2 separate regions of the Homo sapiens genome follow, and region 1 is linked to region 2. The links come from fine-mapping of genetic effects on gene expression. A gene starts in region 2. The other region holds a variant in brackets. All regions are shown on one strand. Distances are from middle to middle.

Region 1 (8,325 bases), 220 kb after region 2:
AGTACAAATGACAGATGCTCTGTGGGGTTCTTCAGGGTCAAGGTGGCAGAGGTGGGGGTAGGAAGTGAGAGGAGGGGGAAGGGTTGACCAGAGGCACCAATTTGTCTCCTGTGGGCTTGGTCAGTATGTGAGCTACCAGGGGGCCAGGCTGGGCCTGACTCTCGGAGAGGCCTAATAAACAGTACGTATGATAAAACAACTCCTCTGTATTCGTTTTGATTTTATTTATTTTTTGAGACAGAGTCTTGCTGTGTCATCCACGCTGGAGTACAGTGGCTTGATCATAGCTCACCGCAGCCTCTAACTCCTGGACTCAAGTGATTCTTCCACCCTAGCCTCTTGTGTATCTGGGACTACAGCTGTGCACTGCCACACCTGTGAGCCACCTCACCCAGCCTGAAAATTAGATTTTCTAAAAAGACATTATAAAATCAACATGGGTTGGGCATGGTGGCTCATGACTGTTATCCTGGCACTTTGGGAGGCCAAGGCAGGAGGATCACCTGAGGCCAGGAGTTTGAGACCAGCCTGGGCAATGTAGCAAGACCCTGTATTTACAAAAAGTTTAAAAATCAGCTGGGCGTGCTGTCACTCATCTATGGTCCTTGCTACTTGGAAAGCTGGGAGGAAGGCTCTGTTTGAGCTCAGACCAAGACTGCAGTGAACCAGAATCCCGCTACTGCACTCCAGCTAAGTGACAAAGCAAGACCCTGTTTTTTTTTGTTGTTGTTGTTGTTTTTTTTTTTTTGAGACGAAGTCTCGCTCTGTCGCCCAGGCTGGAGGGCAATGGCACTATCTCAGCTCACTGCAACCTCCGCCTCCGGGGTTCAAGCAATTCTCCTGCCTCAGCCTCCTGAGTAGCTGGGATTACAGGCGCCTGCCACCCCGCCCAGCTAATTCTTGTATTTTTAGTAGAGATAGGGTTTCATCATGTTGGTCAGGGTGGTCTCGAACCCCTGACCTCGTGATCCACCCGCCTCGGCCTCCCAAAGTGCTGGGATTACAGGCCTGAGCCACTGCGCCCGGCCAAGACCCCGTCTCTTAAAAAAAGGAAGAAGAAACTAAATCAGATTTTCAAAGTACAGAACATAGAAATTATTTACCTGGGGCCGACGCGGTGGCTCACGCCCCAGCACTTCGGGAGGCCAAAGTGGGTGGACCACCTGAGGTCAGGAGTTCAAGACCAGCCTGGCCAACATAGTGAAACCCCATCTCTACTAAAAATACAAAAAACTTAGCTGGGCATGGTGGCAGGCTCCTGTAATCCCAGCTAGCTCAGGAGGCTGAGGCAGGAAAGTCACTTGAACCCAGGAGGCAGAGGTTGCAGTGAGCTGAGATCGTACCATTGCACTCCAGCCTGGGCGACAAGAGCAAAACTCTGTCTCAAAAAAAAAAAAAGAAAAAAAAAAGAAATTATTTACCTGGAAAATGTAGTTTCTATGTGAGTCTTTTATTTATTTATTTATTTGAGACAAAGTCTCATTCTGTCACCCATGCTGGAGCGCAGTGGCTTGATCGCAGCAAACTGCAGCCCCAATCTCCTGGACTCAAGGGATCGTCCTACCTCAGTCTCCCAAGTAGCTGGGGCTACAGGTACACGCCACCACGCCTGGCTTATTTTTTATTTTTAATAAATACTAGGTCTTGCTATGTTGCCCAGGCTGATTTTGAACTCCTGAACTCAAGTGATCCTCCCACCTTGGCCTCCCAAAGTGCTGGGATTATAAGCGTGAGCCACCACGCCCAGCCAAGTCTTAAAATCCAAGTCACAATGGGCTTTTTTTCTCTGTATTTACGACATTGGCTGAATCCCTCCCTTGGCGATGGTAATAAAATGTACTGTTGACAGAGCTGTACTGAGCCAGGTACTTTACATATACTGCTTTGGTTGCCTTAGTCCTCCTTTCTTCCCCTGTAACTGTAAAATCCTGCTTTACAGTTATAGTAGTAAACAAAAACCCAGGGAAGTTTAGAAACTTCCCAGATCATCTAGCAGTGAAGTGAGAGAGCCAAGATTTGAGCACAGGAATTTCTGGCTCCAAAGCTTGAGTCCAGCACCAGTAATTGACTCTTCCTGGGTAGTCAGTTGTCCTGGGGCCCATCCATCATGTGGGACATCGGCCATTTCTTTTTCTTTTTCTTTTTTTTTTTTTTTTTTGAGACAGAGTTTCACTCTCGTCGCCAAAGCTGGCGTGCAATGGCGCAATCTTGGCTCACCGCAACCTCCACCTCCCGGGTTCAAGTGATTTTCCTGCCTCAGCCTCCCGAGTAGCTGGGATTACAGGCATGTGCCACCACGCCCAGCGAATTTTGTATTTTTAGTAGAGACGGGGTTTCTTCCTGCTAGTTAGGCTGGTCTCAAACTCCCAACCTCAGGTGATCCACCCACCTTGGCCTCCCAAAGTGCTGGGATTATAGGCGTGAGCCACCATGCCCAGCCAAGACATTGGCCATCTCTATGAAGTTTTCTTAGTTTTTGTTGCAAGATTTATTGTCTGTAGTTACTATTGTTTCTGCTGTAAGCTGGCCCCTCCTGAGCCTGTGTGAACAGAATCCATCTTGGTCCATCAGGGTAAGCTGCACCCTGCAGTGAGCCATCAGAAATAATCTGTGTCTTAACCATTACCTCATCTGAAAACATTCAGAAAATGTTTGGGGGCCTGAGGGAAGATGAGCACCATGGTTACTGAAGATGCACATACCTGGAGAAGGCACATTCTTGTGACCGGTTGCCCCAGGTCACAGGCATCCAGGCCTAAGGCTGCCCCTCCAACCAGGAAGTACCTGTGGAGTGCCAGAGTGGAGCCTGGATGGCTGTGGAGGAGAAGCCCAGGTGCACACATTGCCCAGATGGGCTTCAACTAGAAGGGTAAGCACATGAATTAGTCCAGCCCAAGACTTGGTATCCAGTTTTCCACATTGCATGTAGGCTCTGTGTAATGCTTTCAGTCTCGTTTCCTAACCCACCCCTGCCTTCTCAGTCCTTCAGCATTTCGTGATCATTGCCTCTCCCCAATCCCCAAGTCCTTCTGCACAGCAGCCCCCATCTCACATTCAGTGGCTAGAGCAGGATGAGCAACCGAGAGACCACAGGAGGCAAAGAGTCAAAAAGATAATTTTGGAGTGGTCAGGCATGGCAGCTCATGCCTTAATCCCAGCACTTTGGGAGGCCAAGGCGGGTGGATCACCTGAGGTCAGGAGTTGGAGACCAGCCTGGCCAACATGGTGAAACCCTGTCTCCACTAAAAATACAAAAGTTAGCCGGGCGTGGTGGTGGGCACCTGTAATCCCAGCTACTCAGGAGGCTGTAGCAGGAGAACCGCTTGAACCCAGGAGGCGGAAGTTGCAGTGATCCGAGATCATG[C/T]GACTGCACTCCAGCCTGGGCAAGAGTGAGACTCTATCTCAATATTTTTTTAAAAAGAAAATTTTGGAGGAGTGCACAGATCATGTATCAAGACCTTATGGGTGGGGCCTTTGTAAGGACTTTGGCTTTTATTCCGAGAAGCTATTGCACATTGGAGAGCTTTTTCGTGGGTTTTTGCCAGGGTGTCTTTACCCTTTCTGGCTTACTATGACTTGTAAACTTCTGTATGTGTCTAGTCCATACTGCTTTTTGGGCTTTCTAAGTTTTCTATTTAAAGTATTAGCACAGGATTTCCTTCGACTTGAACCACACAAAGCTCGCAGGAACACTGCAGGTGTTAGTGTCTCATGGCTGCTCATATCCTCACAAGCTTTCATCTTGAAACATGGAGCAGCATTCATCCCTTCAGTTCCCAGCTGCTTATCCTCTAGCACTCTCCTCAGGGCTTTGTCCAGCTTTGTTTACCTCTGGGTGCGTGTTGGCTGCAGCGTACCCAGAATGGGTGTGAGGGCAAAAAGGGTATTCTCACTTCCTTCCCTTCCTGCCGGAGCCAAACATGTTCTAGCCTTGGGCCACTCTAACTTGTTGGACCAGTGTTTTCAGAGAACAATCTGCAGGGAATCTTAGGGCCCTCTCTGGAGTTATGACTAAGAGTAGAAGTTATGAATAGTCCATCCCCTAGAAAATAGGTTAGATTTCCTTGCCCCAAGCTGATGACCTAATAAATGCATGACAACATAGAGACACGTCCATGAAGTGTGCCCACCTCTCTAGCCCACCTGTGTTATTCAGGGTTCTCCAGAGAAACAGAACCAATAGGGTGTTTAAGACAGAGATTTATTTGAAGAAATTGGGGCCAGGCATGGTGGCTCACACCTGTAATCTCAGCACTTTGGGAGGCCAAGGCAGGAGGATCACTTGGGCCCTGCCTAGGCAACAGAGGAGGACCCCATCTCTACAAAAAAAAAATTTTAAATTAGCCAGGCGTGGTGGTACACACCTGTGGTCCCACTTAGGAGGCCAAGATGGAGGATCGCTTGAGGCCAGGAGATTGAGACTAGCCTGGGCAGCATAGCAAGACCCCACCTCTACAAAAAAGAAAAAAAAATTAGTTCGTGCAGTTGTAAGGCAGAGAAGTCCAAAATCCTCAGGGCAGGCGGACATGCTGGAGATTCCCCCTTGAAACTTTGAGATTTCCTGTTGTGTCCTGTTGTTAGGTATTGGGAAGAATGTGGTTTGCGAGAAGGCAGCAACATCGGTGGATGCCTTCCGGATGGTGACAGCCTCGCGCTACTACCCGCAGCTCATGAGCCTGGTAGGGAACGTGCTGCGCTTCCTGCCTGCCTTCGTGCGCATGAAACAGCTGATTTCGGAACACTATGTGGGAGCGGTGATGATCTGTGATGCCCGCATCTACTCAGGCAGCCTGCTGAGCCCCAGCTATGGCTGGATCTGTGATGAGCTCATGGGCGGCGGGGGCTTGCACACCATGGGGACCTACATTGTGGACCTGCTGACCCACCTGACCGGCCGGAGAGCCGAGAAGGTGCACGGGCTGCTCAAGACATTCGTGAGGCAGAACGCTGCCATCCGTGGCATCCGGCACGTCACTAGCGATGACTTCTGTTTCTTCCAGATGCTCATGGGTGGGGGTGTGTGTAGCACAGTGACACTCAACTTCAACATGCCAGGCGCCTTTGTGCATGAAGTCATGGTGGTAGGCTCTGCAGGACGCCTCGTCGCCCGGGGAGCCGACCTCTATGGGCAGAAGAACTCTGCCACGCAAGAGGAGCTGCTCTTGAGGGACTCGCTGGCAGTGGGCGCAGGACTGCCTGAGCAGGGGCCCCAGGATGTCCCGCTGCTGTACCTGAAGGGCATGGTCTACATGGTGCAGGCCTTGCGCCAGTCCTTCCAGGGGCAGGGCGACCGCCGCACCTGGGACCGCACCCCTGTCTCCATGGCCGCCTCCTTCGAGGATGGGCTGTACATGCAGAGCGTGGTGGATGCCATCAAGAGGTCGAGCCGATCCGGGGAGTGGGAGGCTGTGGAGGTGCTGACGGAGGAGCCCGACACCAACCAGAACCTGTGTGAGGCACTTCAGCGGAACAACCTATGAGCCTGCACCTGGGCTCCTTGCCACAGGGCAGAGGGACCAGGGAGGGGAACAGGAGCCAGACATGACAGGGACTTGGCCCTAGCAGAGACAGTGTCTTTCATTTAATGAGTCTGGGTGAAGCCAGAGGTGGCTCTGGGACTTCGCCCCCTCCAGTGGCTCATCTGCTCCTCAGACTTGCAGGGTGGCAAATGTTCCTGTTGCCAGGTTACCACGGTGTGCACAGGGCAGAGCTGCCGCCAGGCCTCCTCATGGTGATGCCAGTGAGTCGGACCAGGAAAGGCTCACCCTGGGGAGCCCTTCAGCCTGATCCGCAGTCCTAACAGGGTGAGAAAGCACAAGAGGGGCCAGCTCGGCTGAGGCCTGAGGAGAAATGATGAGAAGTTTTGTTTCGTTCTTGGGCTGGGGCATCTCAGGAACAGTGAGGGCAACAAGCTGTCCCTCAGGGACCCTCACCTGCCCTCCCATGTGACCAGGCCCTTCCCAGGTGGGGACTGGGGCTTGCTTTATTAAGTGAGCTCTTGGGCTTTTGAAGTAGGACAGAGGGCCCTGGTTTGGCAGAGAGGAGGCAAGGGAGGGCTTTAGAACATCTGAGAAATGTTAATAAATAATTCAGAAAATAGGACATGGCATGTGGTTTTTGTTTGGTAGGTTGGGTTTCTTTAATACTGAAAGGCTTGTTTCTGGCTGGTAGGGGGTTTTTCTCTACTCATTGCTCCACAGCAGCTCGGAGCCAGCGTGGGTCATCACCGCCAACTGTGCCACACGGGCCGCTGCCCCTGCCAGCCCTCGTCTCCTGCCTGTTCCCTCATAGCCAAATCCCAGGAGCCTCAGAAGAAAAGATTTCCTCAGAGAACAGGACTCAGGACTTCCTAATGGGCTGCTGCTGGGCCTGCCGTCTCAGCAGATAGCGGGAGAGTTTGGGGCCTCACTGGGGTGGAGGTTAGGAGGGGTTCTGTTCTTAATGTCACGGTGTTGGCTGCCAGAGTGCTCTTGAGGTGGCGGGGAGGAGTGGTTTCAGGGAGGTGGCACAGGGTGAGGAGGAGGAGGAAGAGCTCCAGGCGTGCCCCATGGAGCAGCTGTGGCTGGACCCGAGGGCCAATCACCCACCATGCTCTTGACTGTGCTCTGCACAGGGCCAGCCTTCTACCCAGCTCTGCCAGAGGCGGCGGGGGGTGGGGGCGGGGGGGCACGGTGTTGAGAAAAGACATGCGTTCCCCTTTGCTTGTTTGACCAGCCTGCCAGGATCGTTCAGCCTGGACCAAGTTCTGTTCCCTTCTCTAACCTTCCGCCCTCTTCCCTGCCCTGGGCTCCTTGCCAGAAAAGCCCAGGGAGGGCTTCCTCTTCCTCTTGGCACCGCTTCTAGACGTCACCAGGCTTGTTTTCCTGTAATTTCCTGGATTCAGATGTCCTTGTGAGAGGGAATAACAAGGGATAGGGTTGGAGTGTGCCTACTGCATGCTGACCCTCAGGGCAAACGTGTATGTTATTATTTCCCTTAACCTCCAAACCACTCTCTGACGGTAAATATTCTCATCATTCAGATCATAAAATGGAGGCACAGAGGGCAAAGCTACTTGCCTCCTGTAGATTGTACATGATGGAGCCAGGAGCCTGGTCAGGACCATCTAACCACAGAGCCTGACCTTGAACCACGCTTCCTCCCAGCATTTGGGAATCTTCAGACCTGAGGGCCCGGCATTGCCCCTCCCTGTGGCAGGAGCCTCGGCCTGGCCTGAACTAGGAGGTGAAATGCAGATAGCACCCACCACCAGGCAGGACACCGAAGGTTAAAGGGGAGGCTGCCCCCTTGTCCCTGGGACAGTTAGCTCAGCTCAGTCCTCCCATGTGTTGCTAGGATGTCGAGGTCACTCTGAAATGTGGGAATTGACCAGGAAAGCACAAGCCTGACTTAGATGCTCCCACATAAGAAAGGGCCATGTGGCCAACCCAGAATGGCACTCGGGTTCCCAGAATGTGCTGGGGGGAGGGTACTGCAGTGGGCTGAATGCAGAGCTGCTTTAATGAGGACCCCGGTTCCTCTGAGGGAATCCCCAGAGCCTAGATTCACGGCCAGAGTGGTGCATGGCCCCTTCCCTCAGACGTCTTTACCATCGAGTTATCCTGGGCATCAGAGCTGGTCAGTCCCACACTGGGGATGGGGAAGACAGATGTGCCCAGATGCCTGTGGCCAAGGGAGCCCACAGGGTTCTGGTCTCCATGGGTGACTGAACCCACACTGGTTCTAGACTTGTCCGGCAGCACCCCCTCCTGGAAGAAGGCAGTAGCATCTCCCAGGACCTGTTTCCAAATCTCAGGATGTTACCAGCTCTTCCTCAGGTCAAAATAAAGTTTTTCCAGGACAGTAAAAATGCAGTTAGCTTGGCTCGTCAGATACAGCAACCAGAAGAGAACTTCCCAAATACCTGTCGCTTATTCTTCAACCTCCAGCCAAATCCAGGACTGTTTTCACCTAGACGATGGCAGCCACTTCCTTTCCTGTTCTGCCCATCACCCTGCTGGCCAAGCAGCCTCTCCTGAATGTCACGCCAAGATCCCTCCCTATCCACACCCTTCCTCCTCACCCCCGGACTTGACCAACCTGGTTTCCATATGGCCATGCCCTCCTCTCCAGCCACACTAAGAGCCCTCCTGCAGAGGTGGCAGCTTCCATACTAGCAGGGCTTTGTCCCTGGCATGTCCTCTGCCTGGAAGGCACCACCTCTCTCTCTCAGGAGTCAGCTGGAGGACTGCCCGGTCACCACTTCTGACTTCAGCAAAGTAGCCACCTCCCAACCTGTGGTTCCACAGCCTTGGTCCTCAGTTGAGCTGAGGTTGCATGTCCCTC
Region 2 (8,325 bases):
CAGCCTGGGCAACAAAGCAAGACTCCGTCTCAAAAAAACAAAATTAGCTGGGTGTGATGCTGTGTGCCTGTAGTCCCAGCCACTCAGGAGGCTGAGGTGGGAGAATCACTTGAGCACGGGAAGGCAAGGTTGCAGTGAGCTATGATTATGCCACTGCACTCCAGCCTGGGCAACAGAGTGAGACCTCGCCATCATCAGAAATACAGACCCTGGCAATGTACCTGGGGTTCTCCTTCCAAAATCCCAACGTTCAACCCAGAAATATTTACTGAATTCCTGCTGTGGGTCAGGAACTCTGCCAGAGATTGCGACAAACAAAAAGAAGGCGGCCATAGTCTCTAATCTTAAGGAACTTACAGCCTGGATGGCTCCACACCAAGAGTCCCTTGATACATGACTCTTAGGATGCCCTGAGAGGCCATTTCAAGGCTGGCAGCTTGGAAAGAAAACTTTCTCCCAGCAAATGAAAACATCACATGTTTCCACCTTAGCATCACATCAGACACCATGGCAACAGAGGGCTGTACCAAGAATTAGCTCAGTGATGACCTAGCCAACACAAACCGGCTTAATGCTCCTTGAGTAAGATTCCTGGAAGGAAAGGGAGTTCAAATAAATAAGTCTCTCTCCAGCTCTCAACAAGCAGAACTGCTTCCCTTCTTCCAGAGCTGTACTTTTTCTCAAAAATTTTTCCCCATGCCAAGATACACAGAGAGAATGATAGAATGATACTATTGTATAACACCCGGGAGTCAGTGGAGACAGCTGTTCTCAGCTATCCTGAAGCTTAAGGGTCGATACTTTGGCACACCTATAGCCCATTCACATCATACAGCTGAGAAGCTGTGAAGAGGACCTAAGTTGCCCATATTACACACTCACACTTCCAAAGTAAAACAGAAGGCCAAACCAAAGTCTCACTCATTTAACTATGAACTTGTGATTATGATAGAGAACTCCAGCACCTACTTCTGTAGGGGCATTCTGTTCTAGATGCCAACCAGATGCCTGAGGTGAAGTGCAACTGGAGCTCAGTGTCAGATGCAAACAGGTTTCCTGAAGGCTGCACTTTTTCTAGCTCATTTATGCAACTTAACAAGCACAAAACTACAATTAGACCTAGACAATATGCTTATTCAGCAAACCCACCCTCTAGTGAATCAGCATTCCAAATCTCTTCTAGGGGTATGGCCAACTGAATCGACCCTGATTTAGAGGCACCATATTGCGGGAGGCTGAGGCAGGAGAATCGCTTGAACCCGGGAGGCAGAGGTTGCGGTGAGCCAAGATTGAGCCATTGCACTCCAGCCTGGGCAACAAGAGCAAAACTCCGTCTCAAAAAAAAAAAAAAAAAAAAAAAAGAAGCACACTATTGTCAGTTTTCCCCGATGACCAGAAATGACCTTGAGGAAATCACACAATACAAAGCAGCTTCCTACACACAACTAACCCTGAAGAACAAACACGCTTATTAAGACAAGACCTTCTAGCCGGTTGTGGTGGCTCATGCTTGTAATCCCAGCACTTTGGGAGTCCGAGGTGAGTGGATCACCTGAGGTCAGGAGTTTGAGACCAGCCTGAGCAATACGGTGAAACCTCGTCTCTACTAAAAATACAAAAATTAGCCAGGTGTGGTGGCAGGCATCTGTAGTCCCAGCTACTGAGGAGGCTGAGACAGGAGAATTGCTTGAACCTGGGAGGCGGAGGTTGTAGTGAGCCGAGCTCACGCCATTGCACTCCAGCCTGGCGACAGAGCGAGACATCATCTCAAAAAAAAAAAGAAAAGAAAAAAGAAGACAAGACCTTCTTTTGACAAGGGAAACTCTGGGAAGAGGAGCCATTAGTAATAAAAGTGGCTTCCATTAACTGAGTGCCAACTTTGCTAAGGATCTTATATGTACCATCTCACTCCTCTCTACAAGCACATGTAGTAGGCACGATGATTCCTATTTTGGAATAAGGAAATTAGGACTTAGAGAACCTCAAGATTTCAGAAAAGCCAGAAACTGAATCCAGGTCTTTCTGACACCAAAGCCCATGCTTCTAGGCATGAGACCACAACAGGAGTCCACAAGGCAAGGCCTTCTCACTGGACAAAGGAGACAACAGTTTTCTTAGGCAATGACAAAGATCTTCAATGAGGAAGCACAGTAAAGTTACCTGGGAAGTTTTCTCAAAATACAGATACCTGGCCAGACATGGTGGCTCACGCCTGTAATCCCAGCACTTTGGGAGGCTGAGACGGGTGGATCACGAGGTCAAGAGTTCAAGACCAGCCTGGCCAACAGGATGAAATCCCGTCTCTACTAAGAATACAAAAATTAGCTGGGCGTGGTGATGCGTGATTGTAATCCCAGCTACTCGGGAGGCTGAGGCAGGAGAATCGCTTGAACCTGGGAGGCGGAGGTTGCAGTGAGCCGAGATCGCACCACTGCACTCCAGCCTGGGTGTCAGAGCAAGACTCCATCTCAGAAAAAAAAAAAAAATACAGATTCCTACCCCAGATCTTCTTCATCAAAATCTCAAAGAGTGGGTCAGGTGTGGTGGCTCTTGCCTGTAACCCTAAAACTTCGGGAGGCCAAGGTGGGAGGACTGCTTGAGCCCAGGAGTTCGACACCAGCCTCGGCAACATGGCGAGACCTCGTCTCTGTTTAAACAAAAAAAAAAAAATCTCAGCCAGGCATAGTGGCTTATGCCTGCAACCCTAGCACTTTGGGAGGCCGAGGCAGGTGGATCACCTGAGGTCAGGAGTTCGAGACCAGCCTGGCCAACACGGTGAAACACCATCTCTACTAAAAATACAAAATTAGCTGGGCATAGTGGTGCTTGCCTGTAACCCCAGCTACTCTGGGGGCTGAGGCAGGAGAATCACTTGAACCTGGGGGGTAGAGGTTGCAGTGAGCCAAGATCGCGCCATTGCTCCAGCCTGGGCAAAAAGAGCAAAACTCCGTCTCAAAAAAAAAAAAAAAAAAAAACTAACTCAGACAGTAAGGCTCTTGATTTTGTATCACAAAATTATCCCAGGAGATTTTGGACTATCCAGGATTAAGAGGCTGTACTACCTACCACACACATACGCTGGCATTTGCTGTGCTCATCTTAGATCCTAGCCCTGATAGGTGCTCAAAAATACAGTTGAATCTATCCATTCATAAGTCAGCATTCAGCAAATGCTACTGGAGGCTAGCCCCTATTTTATGCCAGGCACAGAGCCAGACATATGCAGACAGAAGACCACCATGTGACACAACAGGATGTACTCAATAGTAGCAGCATGGATATAGAGGAGTTAATGGTTACATGCCAAGCAAGGTAGATTTTTTTCCTAGGAAGTGACATCTCAGGTGGATTTTATAGGACAGATGTAAGTTTCCAACACTGGTAGGTGGTCGGTGGGGTGGAAGGCAGTGTATAGCAAACTGAGAAAACTGCGTTATCTAAAGCACAAGGGGACCAAGCACAGTGGCTCACGCTTGTATTAATAATCTCAATATGTTAGGAGCCTAGGCAGGAGGGTCTCTTGAAGCCAGCTCTGGCAACAAAGCCAGACTCCCTGGCTCTACAAAAAATTTTAAACTTAGCCAGGCGTGGAGGGGAGTGCCTCTTGTCTCAGCTACTCGGGAGGTTGAGGCGGGAGGATCATTTGAGTCCAGGAGTTCAAGGCTGCAGTGAGCTATGAATGAGCCATTGCACTCCAGCTTGGGCAATAGAGGCCTTGTCTCAAAATTAGTAATACTAAAACACAAAGGTATGAAACCAGAGCTAACAGGAGCGCCACACGTTTTAACAACAATAAACTACGTAAAGGGAGCACAGAAGTGCTCCGGTGTTGATTGGCTGGTTAAACCTTCACCAGATTACGAAGAGCCCTGAATGCCTTGCTAAGAAGTGCGGCCTTTGTCCTGAAGGCACTAAGGAACTAGTTTCAGGCAGTGAAGGACTTACTCAGATTTTCAGGTGGGAATTATCACTTCAGCCGCTTTATGGAGGGGGACTAAGTGTGGGGGACTAGGCTTCCCCTTGCAGGTAGAGGAATGACAAGCTTGCCAAGCAAGCAACCCAGCTGGACTCAGACCTGCTATTTCCCAGCCTGCACAAGGAAGCGATCAGCTGCCCCGCCGGCCCCTGGCAGACGCAAAGGAGGGGTGTGGAGTAGGCGCCGGGCGCGAGAAGGCAGTAAGGACAAGGACAACCAGGTTGGATCAACCTGACCCGCTCTGGACGCGGGGCGGCTGAACAGCAAGCAGGCAGGGCAACCGACCACGTCCACCAGGCCCAAGCGGGCCTGGAGACGGGCTATCCAGCACGACAGCACGTTCCGAGGCCAGTCCAGACTCGGACGCCGGGAACCCGAGCAGCCATCGCCCGGCCTGCTCTCCAACCCTGTAGGCCCTGGCGCACGGGGCACGGGCCGACGCTGCAGGCTGACCAGGGGCAGGCCCCGGAGCGCCAGAAAGCGACCACGACCACAGTTCGGCTGCCCCTCCCGCCCGTCGGGCCGTCGTCCTGGGCCGGGCCGCCTCACCTCGCGCGGGCGGCGGGCTCTTCGGCGTCTCGGCGGCTCTGCCGGCCATCTCCGGGCAATGGCAGCGGCCGCCGCCGCCGCCGCCGCCGCCGCCATTCTCGGGCGTTAGCGTCGTGGCGTCATCACAGCGCGCAGCTGACGCCAAAACAAGCCTACGGGGCGGGTCGGGGGCGGGTCGGGGGCGGACTCTCCCGAAACTGGGCTACGCGGCTGGCGGATCTCCGAGCGTGGCCTGCCAATCAACCTCTTCGGGGCGGGGACGGGCACTCTCCTGAAGGGGTGGGTCTATTTGTCGCTCAAAGTAACTTGACCGCTGCCTGCGAGACGGGTCGGTGATAGAAAAAGGAAGGATCGCGGGAAATAGGGAGAAAGTTTCAAGTTTCTGGTTGGGGGAAAGGGGACTCTGTAATGCGAGCTTGGGTAAACAATGCTTTCCAACAGAGGTTTCTGGAAGTGCCTCTGGAACTCCGCAAAGGATAGACTTAATTTTCATTAACAAAATCTATTTTTTAAAACTGCACTTAGAATAATTTCAACACTCCATGTGTTGAATTTGGCCTCCATCAAAGAAGAGATGCAAAGGGTTAATTTGTAGATAGGTGAAGTCAATCTTGGGCCAACTTCTGGACTCATGGTTATTTGTTGTTGTTAATTTAATTTATATGCCGAGTCTGAAAAGCAAGCGGATTTTTAAAAAATTGTTACCATTCACAATGACTTCTCTATAGGATCAGAACTGGTTCACTTTACAGTCAACCCAACTTGGAGGGGTTAAAATAGGTGCTGCAGATGGTAAGTGCATTGTAACCTCCATCCATCTTCCCCATTTCAGTAGCTCTGTATTCAAATCTTTATTGAGTATGTACTTTGCACATGGAACTGTCTTTGATTGACTGTATAAGCTAATGTTATACTTTAAACCTAAAAATAAATTAACACCAATAAAACATTGTCGTCGGCTGGGCGCCACTGCTCACACTTGTAATCCCAGCACTTTGGGAGGCCAAGGCAGGTGGATCACCTGAAGTCAGGAGTTTGAGACCAGTCTGACCAACAAGGTGAAACCCTGTCTCTACTAAAAATACAAAAATTAGCCAGGCTTGGTGGCAGGCTCCTGTAGTCCCAGCTACTCGGGAGGCTGAGACAGGAGAATAGCTACAACCTGGGAGACAGAGGTTGCAATGAGCTGAGATTGCACCACTGCACTCCAGCCTTGGCGATGGAGTGAGACTCCGTCTCAAAAAAAAAAAAAAAATTGTTGTCTATTTTATGTAGTAAGGTTTCTTTCTTTTCTTTTTTCCTGAGATGGAGTTTCGCTCTTGTTGTCAGGCTGGAGTGCAATGGCACAATCTCGGCTCACTGCAACCTCTGCCTCCCAAGTTCAAGCAATTCTCCTGCCTCAGCCTCCCCGAGTAGCTGGGATTACAGGCGCCTGCCACCATGCCCGGTTAATTTTCTTTATTTTTATTTTTATTTTTATTTTTATTTTTATTTTTATTTTTTTTGAGAAAGAGTCTCGCTTTGTCACCCAGGCTAGAGTGCAGTGGCGCAGTCTCGGCTCACTGCAAGCTCCGCCTCCTGGGTTCACGCCATTCTCCTGCCTCAGCCTCCCGAGTAGCTGGGACTATTGGCGCCCACCACTGTGCCCAGCTAATTTTTTGTATTTTTAGTAGAGACGGGGTTTCACCATGTTAGTCAGGATGGTCTCGATCTCCTGACCTCGTGATCCGCCCGCCTCGGCCTCCCAAAGTGCTGGGATTACAGGCGTGAGCCACCATGCCCAGCCGTAGTAAGGTTTCTTACAAGATTTCATTTAAAAAGAACAATGGTGGCCCAGCGCGGTGCCTCACGCGCCTGTAATCCCAGCACTTTGGGAGGCCCAGGTGAGCAGACCACCTGAGGTCAGGAGTTGGAGACCAGCCTGGCCAACATGGTGAAACCCCATTGCTACCAAAAATACAAAAATTAGCTAGGCGTGGTGGCAGGCGCCTGTAATCCCAGCTACTTGGGAGGCTGAGGCAGGAGAATTGCTTGAACCTGGGAGGCAGAGGTTGCAGTAAGCCGAGATCACGCCATTGCACTCCAGCCTGGGCGAGAAGAGTAAAACTCCATCTCAAAAAAAAAAAAAAGTTAAAAAATTGTTTCCAAAAGTCTAGTGCAATAATTAAGGGTATAGACTTTGGTGCCAAACATACCTGGGATCAAATCCCAGCTCTGACACTTCCAGAGCTGTTTGACTTTAAGCAAGACATCTGCCTCATCAGCCTCATTTTATTTTTTAAATTTTGGCCAGGTTGGTCTTGAATTCCTGACCTCAGGTGATCCACTGGCCTCAGCCTCCCAAAATCCTGGGATTACAGGCGTGAGCCACTGCACCTGGCCTTTTTAATTTTTTTAATAGAGACAGGGTCTTGCTCTGTCATCCAGGCTGGAGTGCATGGCAGCAATCAAAGCTCACTGTAACCTCGAACTCCTAGGCTCAAGGGATCCTCCTGCCTCTGGAACAGGAATTAAAAGAAATTAAAGAATGTGTAAGTAGAAACTCAGTTGTATGTAAGAAAACCCAATTCCCCCTGAGAAAGAGAAAGAGCTGGAGTTCTTTAAAAATTAACTGCCTGTTTTTCTGTGGCTAGGAAGCCTTATCTCTCCTCCTTTCCCAGGCATTGTGAAGACCCTGTTTCACTAGCTGTGCAGTTACAAGGTCACTAGACAGATAAACTCAAGTCGTAAAACATGCTTCTCCTTGAAAAGTAAGAAATGATGTAATGCGGCCGGGCACAGTGGCTCACGCCTGTAATCCCAGCACTTTGGGAGGCCGAGGCGGGCGGATCACGAGGTCAGGAGTTCGAGACCAGCCTGGCCAACATGGTGAAACCCTGTCTGTACTAAAAATACAAAAATTAGCTGGGTGTGGTGGCGCGTGCCTGTAATCCCAGCTACCCAGGAGGCTGAGGCAGGAGAACTGCTTGAACCGGGACCCGGGAGGCAGAGGTTGCAGTGAGCTGAGATCACGCCATTGCACTCCAGCCTGGGCAACAAGAGTGAAACTCTGTCTCAAAAAAAAAAAAAAAAAAAAGAAATGATGTAATGCATGTCTCAATTAATTTAATAACTGTCTTTGTTTCTTGCTTCTGTAATATGCTTCCCCCTGCACAGATCTCCCCCCACCCCACAAAATGCTTAAAAGGTAACTTAACTCTTTGTTCAGGGCTCAGTCCTTTGGATGTTAATCTGACTGGGCCGATGCACCTAAATAATTAATAAATATCCTCCTGAACCCCACTGGTCTCTCTGATTCCTTAAAATCCCGCTACACCTCGGCCTCCCAAATAGCTGAGTCTACAGGCATGCACCACCATGCCTGACTTGCTTATTTATTTATGTATTTTGAGACGGAGTTTCGCTCTTGTTTTCCAGGCTGGAGTGCAACTGCACGATCTCGGCTCACCGCAACCTCCGCCTCCTGGGTTCAAGCGATTCTCCTGCCTCAGCCTCCCAAAGTGCTGGGATTACAGGCATGAGCTATTGTGCCCGGCCTAATTTTGTATTTTTAGTAGAGACAGGGTTTCTTCATGTCGGTCAGGCTGGTCTCGAACTCTCAACCTCAGGTGATCCGCCAGCCTCGACCTCCCAAAGCACTGGGATTATAGGCCTGAGCCACCATGCCTGGCCTATTTATTTAGACAGGGCCTTAAGTTATCCTCCCACCTCAGCCTTCCAAGGTGCTGGGATTACAGGCATGGACCACTGCGCTGGGCCATAAGCCTCATTTTTATTTTTCTTTTTTTTTTTTTTTTTTT

Which allele goes with the higher level. Positions count from the first base shown, and alleles are read on the strand shown. Sizes are in standard deviations (SD) of each study's normalised expression.
For the expression in monocytes after R848 of the gene that starts at base 4,643 in region 2, allele T in region 1 goes with a higher level than allele C (large effect, 1.1 SD a copy in Quach 2016).

Evidence for each region. PIP is the estimated chance that this variant, and not a neighbour inherited with it, causes the effect. A credible set is the group of variants that fine-mapping cannot tell apart.
Region 1: its variant is the best candidate, but not a certain one, in a credible set for the expression of PSKH1 in monocytes after R848 (Quach 2016, PIP 0.59).

The regions. Positions count from the first base shown.
Region 1 is chr16:67,672,310-67,680,634 of GRCh38, reverse strand. It overlaps GFOD2 (Gfo/Idh/MocA-like oxidoreductase domain containing 2), which reads left to right. Exons shown (of 3, transcript NM_030819.4): 3 at 4,582-6,099. The coding sequence ends at 5,480. Among named protein-coding and RNA genes, the nearest start is that of C16orf86, 9.7 kb to the right of the region's middle. RefSeq lists enhancers at 1,657-2,612, 2,613-3,569, 7,484-7,543. The variant C/T (reference allele first, on the strand shown) is at 3,365.
Region 2 is chr16:67,889,572-67,897,896 of GRCh38, reverse strand. PSKH1 (protein serine kinase H1) reads right to left here and starts at 4,643. Exons shown (of 3, transcript NM_006742.3): 1 at 4,526-4,643. RefSeq lists silencers at 4,397-4,516, 4,847-4,906.